Linked DNA regions of Homo sapiens: region 1 is linked to region 2. The links come from fine-mapping of genetic effects on gene expression. A gene starts in region 2. The other region holds a variant in brackets. All regions are shown on one strand. Distances are from middle to middle.

The links.
Region 1: its variant is fine-mapped to the expression of MAP3K11 in adrenal gland (GTEx, PIP 0.98).

What each region holds. Positions count from the first base shown.
Region 1 is chr11:66,091,853-66,094,759 of GRCh38, forward strand. The region is part of intron 1 of PACS1 (phosphofurin acidic cluster sorting protein 1); the gene reads left to right. Among named protein-coding and RNA genes, the nearest start is that of PACS1, 23 kb to the left of the region's middle. The variant T/C (reference allele first, on the strand shown) is at 1,790.
Region 2 is chr11:65,612,547-65,615,453 of GRCh38, forward strand. MAP3K11 (mitogen-activated protein kinase kinase kinase 11) reads right to left here and starts at 1,675. Exons shown (of 10, transcript NM_002419.4): 1 at 472-1,675. The coding sequence starts at 1,210. RefSeq lists enhancers at 110-997, 1,715-2,144, 1,886-2,772, 2,655-2,704, 2,765-2,854 and a silencer at 1,285-1,464.

The sequences.
Region 1 (2,907 bases), 480 kb after region 2:
ATCATTTTTTATGGCTGCATAGTATTCCATGGTGTATATGTGCCACATTTTCTTAATCCAGTCTATCATTGTTGGACATTTGGGTTGGTTCCAACTCTTTGCTATTGTGAATAGTGCTGCAATAAACATACGTGTGCATATGTTGTTATAGCAGCATGATTTATAGTCCTTTGGGTGTATACCCAGTAATGGGATGGCTGGGTCAAATGGTATTTCTAGTTCTAGATCCCTGAGGAATCGCCACATTGACTTCCACAGTGGTTGAACTAGTTTACAGTCCCACCAACAGTGTAAAAGTGTTCCTATTTCTCCACATCCTCTCCAGCACCTGTTGTTTCTTGACTTTTTAATGATTGCCATTCTAACTGGTGTGAGATGGTATCTCATTGTGGTTTTGATTTGCATTTCTCTGATGGCCAGTGATGGTGAGCATTTTTTCATGTCTTTTTTGGCTGCATAAATGTCTTCTTTTGAGAAGTGTCTGTTCATGTCCTTCGCCCACTTTTTGATGGGGTTGTTGGTTTTTTTCTTGTAAATTTGTTTGAGTTCACTGTAGATTCTGGATATTAGCCCTTTGTCAGATGAGTAGGTTGCGAAAATTCTCTCCCATTTTGTAGGTTGCCTGTTCACTCTGATGGTAGTTTCTTTTGCTGTGCAGAAGCTCTTGAGTTTAATTAGATCCCATTTGTCAATTTTGGCTTTTGTTGCCATTGCTTTTGGTGTTTTAGACATGAAGTCCTTGCCCATGCCTATGTCCTGAATGGTAATGCCTAGGTTTTCTTCTAAGGTTTTTATGGTTTTAGGTCTAACGTTTAAGTCTTTAATCCATCTTGAATTAATTTTTGTATAAGGTGTAAGGAAGGGATCCAGTTTCAGCTTTCTACATATGGCTAGCCAGTTTTCCCAGCACCATTTATTAAATAGAGAATCCTTTCCCCATTGCTTGTTTTTCTCAGGTTTGTCAAAGATCAGATAGTTGTAGATATGCGGCGTTATTTCTGAGGGCTCTGTTCTGTTCCATTGATCTATATCTCTGTTTGGTACCATGCTGTTTCGGTTACTGTAGCCTTATAGTATAGTTTGAAGTCAGGTAGCGTGATGCCTCCAGCTTTGTTCTTTTGGCTTAGGATTGACTTGGTGATGCGGGCCCTTTTTTGGTTCCATATGAACTTTAAAGTAGTTTTTTCCAATTCTGTGAAGAAAGTCATTGGTAGCTTGATGGGGATGGCATTGAATCTATAAATTACCTTGGGCAGTATGGCCATTTTCACGATATTGATTCTTCCTACCCATGAGCATGGAATGTTCTTCTATTTGTTTGTATCCTCTTTTATTTCATTGAGCAGTGGTTTGTAGTTCTCCTTGAAGAGGTCCTTCACGTCCCGTGTAAGTTGGATTCCTAGGTATAAAGAGTCAAGACCCATCAGTGTGCTGTATTCAGGAAACCCATCTCACGTGCAGAGACACACATAGGCTCAAAATAAAAGGATGGAGGAAGATCTACCAAGCAAATGGAAAACAAAAAAAGGCAGGGGTTGCAATCCTAGTCTCTGATAAAACAGACTTTAAACCAACAAAGATCAAAAGAGACAAAGAAGGCCATTACATAATGGTAAAGGGATCAATTCAACAAGAAGAGCTAACTATCCTAAATATATATGCACCCAATACAGGAGCACCCAGATTCATAAAGCAAGTCCTGAGTGACCTACAAAGAGACTTAGACTCCCACACAATAATAATGGGAGACTTTAACACCCCACTGTCAACATTAGACAGATCAACAAGA[T/C]AGAAAGTTAACAAGGATACCCAGGAATTGAACTCACCTCTGCACCAAGCGGACCTAATAGACATCTACAGAACTCTCCACCCCAAATCAACAGAATATACATTTTTTTCAGCACCACACCACACCTATTCCAAAATTGACCACATAGTTGGAAGTAAAGCTCTCCTCAGCAAATGTAAAAGATCAGACATTATAACAAACTGTCTCTCAGACCACATTGCAATCAAACTAGAACTCAGGATTAAGAATCTCACTCAAAACCACTCAACTACATGGAAACTGAACAACCTGCTCCTGAATGACTACTGGGTACATAACAAAATGAAGGCAGAAATAAAGATGTTCTTTGAAACCAACGAGAACAAAGACACAACATACCAGAATCTCTGGGACGCATTCAAAGCAGTGTGTAGAGGGAAATTTATAGCACTAAATGCCCACAAGAGAAAGCAGGGAAGATCCAAAATTGACACCCTAACATCACAATTAAAAGAACTAGAAAAGCAAGAGCAAACACATTCAAAAGCTAGCAGAAGGCAAGAAATAACTAAAATCAGAGCAGAACTGAAGGAAATAGAGACACAAAAAACCCTTCAAAAATTAATGAATCCAGGAGCTGGTTTTTTGAAAGGATCAACAAAATTGATAGACCGCTAGCAAGACTAATAAAGAAAAAAAGAGAGAAGAATCAAATAGACGCAATAAAAAATGATAAAGGGGATATCACCACCGATCCCACAGAAATACAAACTACCATCAGAGAATACTACAAACACCTCTACGCAAATAAACTAGAAAATCTAGAAGAAATGGATAAATTCCTCGACACATACACCCTCCCAAGACTAAACCAGGAAGAAGTTGAATCTCTGAATAGACCAATAACAGGCTCTGAAATTGTGGCAATAATCAATAGCTTACCAACCAAAAAGAGTCCAGTACCAGATGGATTCACAGCTGAATTCTACCAGAGGTACAAGGAGGAACTGGTACCATTCCTTCTGAAACTATTCCAATCAACAGAAAAGGAGGGAATCCTCCCTAACTCATTTTATGAGGCCAGCATCATCCTGATACCAAAGCCGGGCAGAGACACAACCAAAAAAGAGAATTTTAGA
Region 2 (2,907 bases):
CAGCCCTGGCCTTAGCCTTGACTGCCAAGGAGGGCTTCCCTCTCTGAGATATCTGTTCTGGAGGAGCTGCCCATGACGACGGGAGGGGAGGACAGAGCACCAACTCCACGAACATGAATTTAGGGGAGGAGAAGATGAGGAGCACGAGCTTCCAGAGGACTTCCTTGAGGTGGGAGCCATGGCTGGGCAGGATGCTTATGGCCCACCTGAGAGATACCAATTTCTTAACTTGTCCAAACCGCAGCTGCAGGCTGGGGTCAAGGACTTCTGAAGCTGGCGCAGGAAGACTCTGCTGGGTGCCTGGGGCTCTGTTTGGGGGCTAGCTTGAGCCCATGGGCACCCCTGGTCAGCTGGGACCCCCTAGGGTGGGAGCTCCTACCTGCAGTAGACCCTAAGCTAGGCTCAGTGGAAGGTTGGGAGCAGGTGTGTACCAGAGCCATGCCACCCCCAACCATGCCCCCAGAAACTCACTGTTGTTGGACTTGAGATCACGGTGGATGACGGGCACCAGGGCCTCGCAGTGCAGGTAGTGCATCCCACGGGCAATCTGCACAGCCCAGTTGACCAGCACATGGGGAGGCACGCGCCGCCCGGCCAGAGCTCGGCTGAGGGGCCCACCGGCTGCATACTCCATCACCAGGCACAGGTTGGGCTCCTCCAGGCACACAGCCTTGAGGGCAATGATGTTGGGGTGTGCCAGCATGGCGAAGAGCCGGGCCTCCTGGCGAACGCTCTCGGCTGTCACACTGATGTCCTCATCGGGGTCCTGGCGAGCTGCCTTCACAGCCACCAGCTCACCTCGCCAGCTGCCCCTGTACACCTTGCCAAAGCCTCCAATGCCGATCACCTCCTCCAGCCGCAGCTCCTGGAAGCTGGCCACCTCGCAGGGGGGCGGGCCGCCACCCCGAGACACATAGTTGGACGGGAAGATGCCCACCTGGCCACCCACCTGGCCCGCCCACCAGCCCTCGTCTCCTGAGATGGCTGCGTCCCGGGACAGCACCTCCACACGGTCACCCTTCCTCAGGGCCAGCTCATCCTGCCCACTGGGCTCGTAGTCGAACAGGGCTGTCCACACCGGGTTGGCATAACCCGCTGCCTTTGGAGACCCCTCAGGCCGGCCTCCTCCACCGCCCCCACCACCCCCGCTGCCACTGCCATTCCATGACCCTAGAGGGCTCTTGAGGAAGAGGCTCTTCAAGGGCTCCATGGCCGGGAGCCGGCGCTGGGATGTGTGGAGGACCTTCTCTGGGTGCCCGTGGTCCCCACCCCCGCTGGCTGCCAAGGCCCTAGTCCCGGAACCTGGGCATCCGGGCCCTGGCCCTCAGCCCCAGACCCACGCCTCTCTGGGGAGCCAGGAGTGTTGTCTCCCGGCCCCCCGCATCTCGGGCTTCTGGAGGAGGGCACCCAGGGCAGTGTGGTCAGGCCGGGGGGGTGGGGCCCCGGGGCCTCCGGCGCCTCACCATGGCTAGCTTGGAGGGACCCGAGCTTCCCTCGGTTCTGGAGCAGTCCTGGGAGCCTGGCTCCGGCCCCCGCCAAGTGTAAGGTGGGGCCTTCAGGGGCAGCGCCTCAACTCCGGTTGGGTCTTTTTGCGCAGGGGGTGGAGGGAGCGTCCGCAGTTGGGCCGAGACTGCCTGTTCCTGGCCCCGTCTCCTTTGGCCCCGACGGCTCCGACCCCGCTCCCTTCTTCCTCCTCCCTTTGTACTTTGGCCCCGGGGGCGGGAGGCAGAGGTGGAGGGTGGAGTTTCACTTTTTTCCGCTCTTCTCCCTCCTGCAGGAAACAGCATCAGATGACGCGGGCGGCCTGCACCGCTCCCCTCCCAGAGGCTCCAGGCGGGGAGTTCCCGGGTAGGCGGGCCAGGAGAGGCAGAGAGGGAAAGGGCAGAACCAGATCCCCCATCACAGCAGGCTTTTGAGATCTAGAAAGAAAAGCCCCCAGCTGCGTGCTCTGCTGCCTAGGGTGGAGGTTGGTCTCTGCTAAGGATGGGCCATCTCTGCCCTCTGCATCCGCATCGGCGGCAGCAAAACGGGGTTACAGAACCACACTTGGGAAGGGGGTGAACCCGAGTCTGGTCTTGGCTGCGAAGTTGTGGGACTGTGCGATCCATCGATTCTGAGCCTCATTATTTTCTTTCTTTTTTCTTCTTTTGAGACGGAGTCTTGCTCTGTCGCCCAGGCTGGTATGCAATGGCGCAGTCTAAGCTCACTGCAACCTCCGCCTCCCGGGTTCAAGAGATTCTCCTGCCTCAGCCTCCCGAGTAGCTGGGACTACCGGCGCGTGGCACCACGGCCGGCTAATTTTTGTATTTTTAGTGGAGACGGGTTTCACCATGTTGGCCATGCTGGTCTCAAACCCCTGACCTCGTGATCCTCCCGCCTCGGCCTCCCAAAGTGTTGGGATTACAGGCGTGAGCCACCGCGCCCGGCCATTCTTTTCATATATGATATGAGGACGAGAAAGCTCTGCCTCGTAGAGCTAGTTGGATGGGGTGGGGAAGACTGGAGGACAGACGGAACTGGCTGCACCTCAAGCTCTTGGAGTGGATTGCCTAAGGCTCTCTTCTTCTCCTCACCTGGGAAACAATCCGCTTCTTCATATCCCTTCCCCATTGGCAGAAACCTGAGACTTGTCCAGAACTTTGCCCAGGATTGGATTCAGAATAGCTGAGTCGCCCTCACAACTTCTGGATAGGGCTGCCCCAATTGCTTTGAGCCTGTCACTTTAAGAAAGACGACGCTATCCTATTTCGACTATTCCTGCCTGTTACGGAAGGTTGTTCTCTACACCCTAGGTCTGAGCTCTGACCCGGAAGTAGACGCCGCTGGGAGCGAAATCGGTCGTGACGTACGAGGTCCAGCATTAAAGGGGGCGGGCCGAGAGGGGCGTGCTTCGGTAGTGCAGAACTC